Homo sapiens: one gene and its partner. The protein of the gene in region 2 interacts with the protein of the main gene of each other region in a biochemical or structural test. Each region holds a gene or a part of one and is shown on either strand. Other genes may lie near its edges.

Region 1 (7,294 bases), on a different chromosome or scaffold from region 2:
TGTTCTACACTAAGAAAAATTCTTCTGCCTTGGGATCCTGTTGATCGGTGACCTTAAACCCAACCCTGTGCTCTCTGAAACATGTGCTGTATCCACTCAGGGTTGAATGGATTAAGGGCGGTGCAAGATGTGCTTTGTTAAACAGATGCTTGAAGGCAGCATGCTCCTTAAGAGTCATCACCACTCCCTAATCTCAAGTACCCAGGGACACAAACACTGCGGAAGGCCGCAGGGTCCTCTGCCTAGGAAAACCAGAGACCTTTGTTCACTTGTTTATCTGCTGACCTTCCCTCCACTATTGTCCTGTGACCCTGCCAAATCCCCCTCTGCGAGAAACACCCAAGAATGATCAATAAAAAATAATAATAATAAAATAAAATTAAAAATAAATAAATAAATAAAAGCTGCAAATGAAGTCTAGAATCTTTCTGAATTTGTAAGATCCAGTGGCCGGTTACCTTAACAATCAATTACATTACTCATTGTAGGTGAAAGAACCAGGAAACCAAGAATGCAAAAAAGATATGGAAATACAATTGAAGAAAGACAACTTTAATATCAACTTCCACTTTAATTTTTGAAGGCTACTAGTAAAAACATACATTTTAAGCAGTACAACCTCTTTAAAAAGAATGTTACTCAGCACTCCTCTTACCTTTCTTGTTAATAGACTTTTACGTCTCATTCCACAAGCCTCTAGTTGTAACCTTCCTCTCAATGCTAATTCAATTAACATACAGCCACGTAATCCAGATGATATACAGTCATTCCAAAATGATGTGTAACCCTATTAAAAAAAGAAGAAGAAATAAAACAAAATAGCTAATTTACCTTGAATTCAGAGTAAAAAACAGAAATATTATCAGCCAAAGTCATATTTGGTGCCTTTTACCTTTCCTGTCTTTCTATAATAATATACTGAAAAAATACAATTAACATAAATTACTAATCGAGAATTTTCGGGGGCTTATCTTTCCACCACTTATTCTTACATACAAACAACAAATAACTTTAGAGGTCATAAGTTTAGAAACATAACTCACATTTCACCAAGCTGTGTGTTTATTAGGTTCTTTCAGAACCCTGCAAACTCCAAGGAATACTCAGTTAACCCCAGATTATAGTGATTTATTTATGTGGACAAGTTAAGAAGCTCAGGCAAAGACAACCTAGCCAAGTTAGCTTCACAGAGAATTAGAATACCATTCATTTATTGCTGTTTAGGATAAAACCACAAGGTTAATCCGAGCACTTTGGGAGGCTGAGCCAAGACGATGGCTTGAGCCCAGGAGTTTGAGACCAGACTGGACAACATAGTGAGATCCTGTTTCTACCAAAAAAAATTAATTAGCTAGGTGTGGTGCTGCACACCTGTAGTCGCAGCTACCCAGGAAGCTAAGGCAGGAGGACCACTGTGTCCAAGAGTTCAAGGCTACAGTGAGCAATAATTACACCAACACACTGCAGCCTGGGCAAAACAGTGCGACATTGTCTCTTAAATACACACACTGTTAATTTTGTAAGAAGATATTAGAAAAACACACATGCGCCCACAAACAAATGGATGGCTATAGGCCTAAAATTCTCAATAATAAACAGTATAACAATCAGATTGGCCCCAAGAGAGAATGTAAGGGCAGCATCCACAGTGGAAGAACGGCCAGACATAAGGAGGTTGATAGACATCTAGAGATCTGGGATACTGGTCAAGCAGGCATCACCAGATGAGGTCAGGACACTTTAACAGCAAACAACTGGGGTTGTTCAAATTATAAAGCCACAAATCTTGCCAGCAGGATTGCCAGCTATCAATTTAAGATACCCAGTTCTCATGAGACAGCAGAAGCTATAAATAACTCTCATTAAGGCTCAGAACAGGGTAACACAATTTTGGTAGGAGAACAGGCCAACTGAATCTCTAAAGAATGGAGGGCCCAGGATTAGGAAGGCCTGGCCCTCACCTCTGGCACTTTTCCAAGGTCAATCCTGGCACTTTGTCAGGCCAGAGTAGTGAGCTTGTGTTTCAGAAGATGACTGACCATTGAGGTCCATCAAACTTCATTTTTGATACAAGGAGTTAAATTCGCCTCACCAAGCTACCACTTCTGAGAATGTGACCTTTGGGAAAATAACAATTTAAAGGAGGCACAAGCGGATAAACAAAAACATCAGTGTTAAGAGATCAATTTAAATGTGAGGTGTAAGTAGCAGACACTGACTGGATTTTAGGGAGTCACTTTAAACTTAGGGTCGGGGCCTGATCAAATGAAGATTACCAGAGATTTAGCAAAGTGGCTAATAATACCAGTACTTTATAGAGGTTAGGTAAAATGCGTGGCTTCTGTGTCCATGAAATTAAAGCCCTAGGAAGCCTGAGAATGAATTCCACATGAAATTAAAGTTACAGATATCTGGCTTTGACTGGCCTGGACATATAGACAGAGTTCCTAAATGAGCCTCTACAAACTGTAAACAACAGAGAACACCTCATAAAGCAATAATGGACGTGAACAGCCCTACAGCCTGCAAACTCCAGCTGAACAGTACCTGGAGGCTTACATTTGACAGCAGAGAACTAAAATATGTCTCAATCTCAATTGCTCCTAGAGTAATGGCATACCCAGAGATATTAGCAAAATGGGGTCTTTAGTAACAGACTTCAGAGATCTAAATTTAGTGAATGGCTTTAGGCATCATCGCTGAAAGACACATGCTTAAACAGAATTGGATTCACATGGGAAAGTAGATGAATGGGAACGGACAGTTCTGTACCACAGCTTCTGGGACTCGTCAGCAATATTCCAAAGATAAATGAAGCCAACAAAGACACACCAAACAACAGAAAAGTACAGTATGTTGATACCCTCCTGCTAAAATCCATGTCATAAAAGCAGGATCAAAAATTAACCATAGGGTGGCCAGGCGCAGTGACATACACCTGTAATCCCAGCACTTCGGGAGGCAGAGGCAAGCAGATTGCTTGAGCCCAGGAATTCCAGACCCCTGGGCAACATGGTGAAACCCCATCTCTACAAAAAATACAAAAATTAGCCGGGCATGGTGGCACCCGTCTGTGGTCCCAGCTACTTGGAAGGCTGAGGTGGGAGAATCACCTGAGCTCAGGAACTTGAGGCTGCAGTGAGCCATGATCATGCCACTGCACTCCAGCCTGGATGACAGGAGTAAGACCCTATCTCAAAAAAAAAAAAAAGATAAAATATGTGGGGAAGGTTAGTAACTGGCAGCATCAAGCAGCTTATGACTGTAGTCATAATTAGTTCCTATGTTCTAAAATATAAGGATGGGAGAGGACAGAGACACCCCAAGTAGGCTGGGCCATACACTACCAGACCTCCATCTGCCTGATTCCCTTTATTCTTTCAAGTGGCTCAATTTGAATGGTAGAAAAGGGTATTGTTTATTAAGTCCCCTAAAACTGCCAACACTGAGAAGAGTTCTCACCATTCCAGTTAAGAGCTACTGTTCTGCTCTCAACTGCCTACTTACCCAGAAGCTTTTTGTTAAGAAGGAACTCAAAAGGTTGGTAACCCAAAATGAAATGTAATAAAAATATTTTGTATAAAGATCATAACAGGGATATAACCGGAAGTATAAGATTTTCCTTATATGTTATTAAAAACATTTACAACATGGGAAAATGCTCATAATATATATTCTACATGAGAAACAGATAAAAAATTATATTATCTAAAGCAGAGTGTCCAATCTTTTGGCTTCCCTGGGCCATACTGGAAGAATTATTATCTTGGCCCACACATAAAATATACTAACACTAATGACAGCTGATGAGCTAAAGAAAACAAAAAAAAAAACCTCATGTTTTAACAAAGTTTACAAATTTGTGCTGGACCAGATTCAAAGCCGTAGGCCACCTGCGGCCCACAGGCCACGGGTTGGACAAGCTTGATCTAAAGTGTAATCTTATTTTGAAGTTACATAAATATTAATACGTATGTATATCATAGGTTTGTATTTACAAAAAAACTTATAAATGTTCACATCCTTTGACACAATTCTTATGGGCCTTTAGTTAGAAAATACTGTGCACAAAAATATATGTACAAATATATTGATCACATCATTATCATAGTAAAACACAAAAACAATCTAAAAGCAAAAAAAAGGGAATAAACTCAGCACTTCCCAAACTTTCCTGACCTTGAAGCATTTTAATTTACAGTATACTTTTAACAGCCTACAGAATATTACAATTCTATGAAAATCAGTTTTAAAAATCCTGGTGCAGGAGGCGGAGGCTGCAGTGAGCCGAGATTGCACCACTGCACTCTAGCCTGGTGACAGAGCAAGACTTCATCTCAAACAAAAAAAAAAAGAAAAGAAATCCTGGTGCAGAGGTTATTACAAAACATGAAAAATTATTATGAAATCGTGTGTGTGTGTGTAGAGAGACAGAAAATAGTCCCATTTTTTAGGGAGATTAGAAGAAAAGTTTTAGCAGCAGTAATGTCTGGTGATTATGGTGATCTTTATTTTCTTTAGGCTTTTCTGTATATAGTAAAGGAAAACTCGTGGCAAGGAGATAAGTAAGGTTTTCCTTACTGATCAACTATAGTTATAGTTGTTCAAGCTTAAAAGGCAATAGTTATGATAGTGGCAGTAATTTGACAGAGGCAAAACACTAGAAGAACTAAAAACTCTCCATGAAAATAACTATGAACCACAAAGTAAAACATATTTGTGAAGTAGTAAAGAACTGTGCTCAAGAGCCCAGACCGCACAAACACCTGGCGATTCAAATCAACTCCAGCTCTACCACATACTATATAGTTAAATTTCTGAGACTAGTTTTCTTCATATAAAACAAGTTGTGAAGATTAAATAATATATATAAAGCACAACCCCTGGCAATTAGTAATTACTTAATTATGTACAATTAGAATGGAATGGGGATGGAGGACTGCAAACTCAGTTACTTAGAAAGTACAAAGAACATGACTGAATAAAGAGACCCAGGTGTGGATTGCAGCAAGCTGGACAATGTCCTCTTCCATCTATCTGGGGAAGACAGCTTAGCCCTTATCAACTGTTGCCATGTAAAATGTGGGCCTGCTCTTGCCACATCTTTTTCAAGAGGGCAGAAACGTCCGTTTCTATATATTACTTCCATCTTTGAAAGGATTACAACTCAAGTTTTACTAAACAAAACATATCTGGCAAACCAGTTTGCAACCGCTAAACATTTTACAAAACATACTACGTTATATGAATGTTCAGTTACTAGTAGTCTGTATAGGCATAAAGTACTCAAAATAGTTTCATTTTGTTTTTATGTACAAAATATTTCAAAATGAAATCACTAAAAACACTATATTTTCTATATAAGGTTGAATTCTGGTGTGACCAATGTTTTGGAAATGGCTTTCTAATAGAAATATAGGCCAGGTCCACATGGTGGCTCACGCCTGTAATCCCAGCACTTTGGGAGGCCAAGGTGGGCAGATCACGATGTCAGGAGATCGAGACCATCCTGGCTAACACGGTGAAACCCCATCTCTACTAAAAATATAAAAAATTAGCTGGGCGTGGTGGTGGGCACCTGTAGTCCCAGCTACTCGGGAGGCTGAGGCAGGAGAATAACGTGACCCCAGGAGGCGGAGCTTGCAGTGAGGCGAGATCGCGCCAATGCACTCCAGCCTGGGCAAGAGAGCAAGACTCTGTCTCAAAAAAAATAAAAAATACAAAATACAAAATTACCCAGGCGTGGTGGCGCATGCCTGTAATCCCAGCTACTCAGGAGGTTGAGGCAGGAGAACTGCTTGAACCTGGGAGGCAGAGGTTGCAGTAAGCTGAGATCGCACCACTGCACCCCAGCCTGGGCAACAAGAGCGAAACTCCATCTCAAAAAAAAAGAAAAAAAGAAAGGTGATTGTACTTGCCAAATCTAAATGGACCAGGATGAACAAATTAAGTCTCCCTCCTGAGTATCTGAACTTGCCATACTGAATCAGTTATATGGGCATGGCACTGGAGCTGTACTGGCTGTGTGGATTCAGAAGCTACTGGCCATTGGGTACAAATGCAGAGAATGAAGGTAACAGAAAGGAAAACAGAAGACAAATGCAGAGTAGAAATGAGAGAGGATGCAATGTGAGGCAAACCAAGACATACAGAGACAGAGAGGCAGACAGGCACATACACGGAATAGCATGTTTGTTGTTTTAACCTGCTATGTTTTGTTATGCAGTAAGATAATTAATACAGTGGGTGCCCAGGGCTGGCAAAATGGGAAAAGGGAGAGGTAATGGCTAAAGGGGATGAGCTTTCTTTTGGAAGTGATAAAAATATTCTAAAATTGATTATGGTGGTGGTTGTACAAATCTGAAAACCTTGAATTGTACACTTCAAATGACAATTATATGGCATATGAATCATATCTCAGAGCTGTTACAAAAAAACATTCTATAAAGTCACTTCTGAAATCTTACATGAAATTTTGATTATGTCAAAAATTAAGAATCAAAAAGTTCTTGACAAAAATAACTAATCAAGAGAATGAAGGTGACTTCAGGTAAAAGCAGATTAAAAAGACTAGACAAGAAAAGGTATCTACAGATATAAGAACTGTTAAAGAAGTAGTAAGGCTGGGCACTGTGGCTCACGCCTGTAATCTCAGCACTTTAAGAGGCCGAGGCGGGCAGATCACCTGAGGTCACGAGTTCAAGACCAGCCTGGCCAAGGCGGCAAAACCCCATCTCTACTAAAAATACAAAAATTAGCCAGGTGTGGTGGCTCATGCCTGTAATAGCAGCTACTCGGGAGGCTGAGGCAGGAGAATCGCTAGATCCTGGGAGGCAGAGGCTGCAGTGAGCCACTGCACTTCAGCCTGGGCAAAAGAGTGAAACTGTCTCAAGAAAAAAAAAAAAAGTAGTAAAACTGCATTTGCTGGTGATATTGTTGGATATTTAGAAAAACTCATAAGAGTAAATGGAAAAATTACTATAGATAGGAGTTTAGTAAAGTAGCCAGATTATATAAAATTAAACACCAGTTGTCATATACAAACAAAATACACATGTTAAAATACTAAAAAGTTAAAATATAATTGAAAAGACCTTTACAACAGCAACAAAAAGAACAAAAAATACCATGGCAAAACCTATATGAAAAGTTTAAAGTCTCTTGAAAGACTTAAAAATAGACTTGAATAATAGAAAGATATTTCATTCTTATATACAAAGTCTCAGCATTATTATTAGTTCTTCCTAAGTTAATAAATGTAATATCCCAATAAAAATAGCAACAGATTTTCCCT
Region 2 (5,951 bases):
TCACTTGCATTTTCCTCTCATTTAGTCCCTTGCATAGGTTTTCCTGAGCACTGGATGACTCATTGTTCTATAATGAGGCATCACTTTTGTTCTCTCTTACAATATTGTCATGTAATGAGGCCACGATGATGTCTATAAAGAGCACTGCTAATTTTAGTAATACAAGAAAGTCAGTGTTCTGTGAGGCAGTCATCACCATTGCTCTCATCAAAATCTGATTTTTGAAATGTAAATGAATCATTCATTAAAGTAAAATATATTTAAATATATTTATACTATTAAAAATTTGGTTAATATTTGATATTGTCCAGCAGGTGGAGATAGAGACAAACAAATAAAACTTGAAATCTAGGCTTTCATAACGTCTTTATCATTGTTGTGTGCTAAATACAGTGGGATAAATGTAGCTAGTTGCTTACTTTAATGGTCAAATTTAGTTATTCACGTGACACTGCTGGGGTAGCTTTGTGTTTCAGCTGTGAGTATTTAAAGCTCTGTGGCAAGTTGAGGATTACAACATATTAATAGATTTATGTATAGTTTTCAAATTCTAGATTTGGCTAACATAAATCAATTTATTATTAAACAAAAAGTGGGGAAAGCTGCCTCACACTAAAAAAATCTGTCAACCCTCCATTTTATTTACTCACCCAGTATTTGTTATCATATCCCATCTGTCATGCAAGCAAGGACTTGTTTGCTATGTAATAATGATATGACCTAGCTTAACATTCCCTGTTACTGTCATTTACAGATAATTTCCAGGAAGTGATAAGCACGTATCAATTGATGATTTTGTTTCTTATAACAAGTTAGGAAGGAGAAGAATAGCATAAACCTTAAAGAGTGGAGCATTTATTTTCACAAAAAAAAAGGATATATAATAGCAATAAATAGTAGGGGTCAGTGAGAACAATATTAGCAAAATAGTAAAAGAGGGCTAACACACCAGAAACTACATCAAGAAGTAATTGAACAAAAAATGACACATAACATGTTTTAGGTATTTTAAAGACGCAGCACTGAATATACATTTGTGTGTTAGATATTACTGAACATTCACTTGGGGACCAATAATATGTTAGACTGTAGGGGAGTTCAAAAATATAGCTAAAGCACGCTATTATATAATGGCAGAGAAGAAAGAAATGCAAAAATAGAGATAAGCAAAATGCCATAGGACAGAAAAGAGTGATTCATGGGAGGAATTACTGCTGAGGAGTTTCATAGAGGAAGTGTCATTGCACAAGTCCTGAAGTGTAAAAAGGCTTTCCATGGAAAGTAAATAAGAAAGCCTGGATGAGCAAAGATGTGGCATGAAAACATGTAGAAAATTCAAAGAATTGTATTTCATTTGGTATCCCTCAATTGTGCTTTGGAGGAAAGAGCACCGAACTTCATTTTTTAAGTTTTGGAGAGGGATAGACCTTATTTGAGGAAGGTAGTGATGGAAAACAATGGCTACTTTTAGGAAAATAATTCTGGAAACGTGAGGTATGGACTGATGAAGCAACGAGATCAGCTTGAGCAGCAGTTCTCAAACTTTCTGTCCTCTGGATTCCCTTTACACTCTTAAAAATTTTTGAGCTCCCCCACCCCCAAATTGCTTTTGTTTATATAGGTTATCACTAGCAATATTTCCAGAACTGGAAAGTGTCTGAGAAATTTGTAAAGTTTTTATATATTAATTCATCTAAAAGTAATAATAATATACTTATTAAACATTAATGTAAATGACATTTTTAATGAAAAATAACTATGTTTACCCACAAAAAATAGTGAGAAGAATGGAATTCTGTATTTTTGCAAATCTCTTTAATGTCTGGTTTAATAGAAGAAGACAGCTGGATTCTCATACTCCTGCTTCATTTGGTCTGATCTGAAATGTTGTTTTCGTTCAAGTATATGAGGGAAACCCAGCCCCACACAAGCATACAGTTTGTAAAGGGAGCGAGTACTTTAATAGCCGTTCATATAATTGTGGCTGTTTTTTTATTGTACACCACAACTTAATAATTAAGTGGTAGTTTCTTAAAAGTTATTTCCAGTGTAGACTGATATCCTTGAGCATTGTACCTCATTATATGGAAGTACTTGATACGTACTTCCCACTTCATCTCATAGAATTTTTTTTAAGTATACTGAGGGGTCAAGACTGAATAAAACGAATGTTTTGCTCCTTCATCAGTGACATCCTTAAGTGAAACCGGCATTTACTTTTCAACTGTGTGTGGCCATGAGCAATACAACTATAGGTACTAGCATAGTTTGATTCATGCTAAGGCACCATCAGTTTTACTCACCATTGCTTTTGCACTATCGGTATAAATGTTGCTAAAGTGAAAAGGCAATGGTGTCTTCGTATTATGATGAAAATAGTTTCGGCCTTACAGACCCAATCCTGGATAGTCTGAGGACCAGACTTTGAGAAGCTCTGAGCTATATTGAAGAAACCTACAGCATATGGTGAGGGCCAAACCAGGGCATCTGCAGTGGCGATGGGAAGGAATATAAACCAGAGACATTGCACATATCCATCCTTAGTGACTGGTATGTGAGTGAATGAGGAAAAGTGCAGTATTTCCTAAGGACTAGAGAGCTGGGAATGTCATTAGCCAGGATAGGAACAAGAGACATAGATTTGGAGGGGCAGATAATGAATTTAGGTTTGTATACATTGAGTGTGAGATACCAGCAGTATATTGTGACTTAACAATGAAAGATCTTAGGACTTAGAAAACTGACAATCAAGAGAAATCCAGAAAACTGACAATCAAGAGAAATCCAAAGTCTGAGGTGTGGTTGAGAAGCTTTTCCATTTCCTTAAACTGTCTCCTCATGAAAGTCAAGTGATGATTTCTGATGTCAGTGATATCAAGGGTCCAAATTTGAAACTTTTTTCTTACTGTGTTTTCCAGAACCTGCACAGATTTACTCATATTCCTTCAGGAAAGTGTTTAGATCGCTCAGAGGTCCTGCATCAAGTATTCATCTCCAATTGTGACTCCAGTAAAACGACTCAAAAATGGGAAATGAATAACATCCATAGTGTTTAGAGAGAAAAAAATAAACCAATAACCTACCTACTGACAAGTAAATTTATACAGGACTGAAAACCGCCTGAAACCTGCTGCAACTATTGTTATTAACTCTGTATAGCTCCAAACCTGGAACCTCCTGATCAGTTTGAAGGACATTGATAAACTGTGATTTTACAATAACATTATCATCTGCAGTTACTGTTTACAAGACTGCTTTTACCTTAAACTTTGTAGATGTTTACATCTTTTTGTTGTGTTTTAAGATGATGTTGGTAATTTGTGCCTTTAGCTCTGTTTTATTAGACAGAGTTAAAGCATGTTGTCTTCTTTGGGATTACACTCAGGGGTCTGAAAGGCAGTTTGATTTTTATTTTTAACACACTTGAAAAAAGGTTGGAGTAGCCAGACTTTCATATATAACTTGGTGATTATCAACCTGTTGTGTCTTTATTTAATTTTACATCTTTTTGAAGCACTGCCACAGGTTATTAGCCAAGGTGGCCTTCCTTCACAGTCATGCTGCTTTTTTGAAAGGTGAATTTCAACACATTTAGTGCCTCTTTCATTTCTCAGTATATATTTCAAGAGCTTGTGATGAAATCTATAGGATGGTAATGATGGACTTGTCACCTGTATGGGGAATACTTTTACTACTCAGAAATGAATTTATGTGCTGCCATTTGCTATAAAGTTGAACTTTGTATGGCTTGAAAAAGAAATGACAATATGGAACATCCCAAGGCTGTCCCATAGGGTTGGAAGTTGTGTAGCATTCACTCCCTTACCTACTGGCATTCCCAGTGCCCTCTGTCCATACCTACTTCTAGGATTGCAAAGGAGTCTTCCAACTAGAGAAAAATTGTCCACTGACATTTGGGATTTACTTTTCTCCAATACCTGCCAATACAGAAAACTATTATCAGTTGTTATTGTTATCCCTTGAAAGCGAGGGTGACAAAAACAACAAAACACCGTTATAAACACATCAAAGGTTCATTCTGACTGAGGTAAGACTTTCCAAGCCCTTGTTAGATTAGGCCTTATAAAACTTGTGTGCATTATAACCTAAGCTGTGCAACCTGTGAAGCCAAGAGTGAACTGATGTTTCATTTATATTTTCATCCAAATGACATTATCTGCACGTTTTTAAAATTTAAAAACAAAGGACTATTTAAAAATACAGTTTATTAACAAACGTGAACTACTTTCTGTTACATTAGGTGTTCCCTAGTGTTTCTTAATTTCTTTTTAGAAAGTGTATTTTTATTAGTATTTTTCCGGTGAACAGAAGATTTGTTTGGATTTAAACATTTACTAAGACAGTACCTATTAGGAAAACCAAATATTGCAAATGGTCAATTCGATTTTAATTTCTCAAAAGATACTCTGTTATCCAGAAGATTAAAATGCCTACATTGAGTGCTTAAAAAAAAAAAAACAACTGTGATGATGTGAGCAGAATGGCAAGTAAGTTAAGCATTTTTGATCCTGTAATCATGGTATCATTACAATGAAAGGAATTCACAAACTACTGCCAGAGGAAGTTTGTTTTTTAATTTAAGAGGGAAATATAACCTATAAATTTGTTTCTTCCAAGCTTAGCTCTTAAATTTGGAGACTCAAAGTTAAACATCCTCAACAGAGTTTTATTTATAATTTTGAATTGTCAATTTGTATTTTGCTACTGATCTGTGATCAACCATTTTAACTTTCATCTCTAGGGATGTTTAACATTTATAATTGCAAAATAAACCAACTATAAAAAAAGAAACTAAGAGAGAATTGGTACTTTAATTACTTGTGTGTTTGCAAATAGGCTCCATTTTCCATGTTGAGTAGATTATAACCTTATTAACTATGCATAGGCCTAAGAAAGGTGGCAATGAACTGTGCATGTAAATTTTAAATGGGTACTTTGTGCAATTCGTTAAAAGAAGATACTCTATGAATATGATTCTATATATTGAAATCAGAAAACCTACCAAACAAAAACATCAGAAGCTGCTGCCATAATGACTATTTTCTACTGTAGGCTGCTTTGGAAATAATTCCCATATCCTTGCTTTGTAAGTTGGTAATATCACTATGCATTTCTACACATTTTATAAATTTGATTTATGCAGATTTTGATACACTGTATGTTTCTGTAGAAATTGTATAAATATTCAAAATTTTATTAGGATAAATTTGAGAAACTTACGTATATCTTAATTCTGGGTTGCTTGTTTTTTAGGTGACAAAAATAAAATATTGTATTTTAATTCATGGGTTTTTTTGGTGCTTGTAATCATTTCAAATCTAAACACTGCACATTTGAAAGAATTACTTGATTTTACTATTTACAAGACACACAATACCTAAAATATTATAGACCATAGTTATTAGTTGAGTATGTGCTTGACTGTTGCTTAGCATTCTGTTACACATGCTTAGAATACTCAGAGCTTATGTATCTGTTGGAAGGAAACAAAGGTTTATTTTTACCTGTTTGCCTATGTATACCAATTTTTTAAGTTTATACTTTTTTTAATTATAAAAAATTACCCCAGCAACATATATCCTTCTTGGCTGTATATAGAATTGCCTTCTTGGCTGTACTATAGAATTGCCTATTAGAAGCAAACATGCCTTCAAATCAAATTTGTTTACAACCTGACAGATCAGGTTAAGTGGAGAAAAATGAAGAGAAGGGAAGCCTACCACAATGAAATTAGAAATAGTCCATAGCACCTTGTACAAAACACATCTCAAGAGAAGATACGGTTGCTAACAGATTCAAGTAAGTGGCTGTATTGATTTGGGAAACTTTCTCTCAACTGACCTGTCTATTGTCATATCTCCCAATTCTTAGCTGCTGTAGAAGTAGGCTAAGAAATTTGAAAAAGTGACAGCACCAGACTAGAATAAATG

The links.
Region 1: the proteins of GALNT7 (region 2) and GOLPH3 form a complex in vitro, tested with the Homo sapiens proteins (one study listed by BioGRID).

The regions. Positions count from the first base shown.
Region 1 is NC_000005.10:32,143,094-32,150,387, forward strand, and holds part of GOLPH3 (Golgi phosphoprotein 3), read right to left. Parts: intron 788-7,294; coding exon 656-787; intron 1-655. UniProt on the Homo sapiens protein: Phosphatidylinositol-4-phosphate-binding protein that links Golgi membranes to the cytoskeleton and may participate in the tensile force required for vesicle budding from the Golgi.
Region 2 is NC_000004.12:173,318,662-173,324,612, forward strand, and holds the end of GALNT7 (N-acetylgalactosaminyltransferase 7), read left to right. Parts: intron 1-2,918; coding exon 2,919-3,056; 3' UTR 3,057-5,306; downstream 5,307-5,951. UniProt on the Homo sapiens protein: Glycopeptide transferase involved in O-linked oligosaccharide biosynthesis, which catalyzes the transfer of an N-acetyl-D-galactosamine residue to an already glycosylated peptide.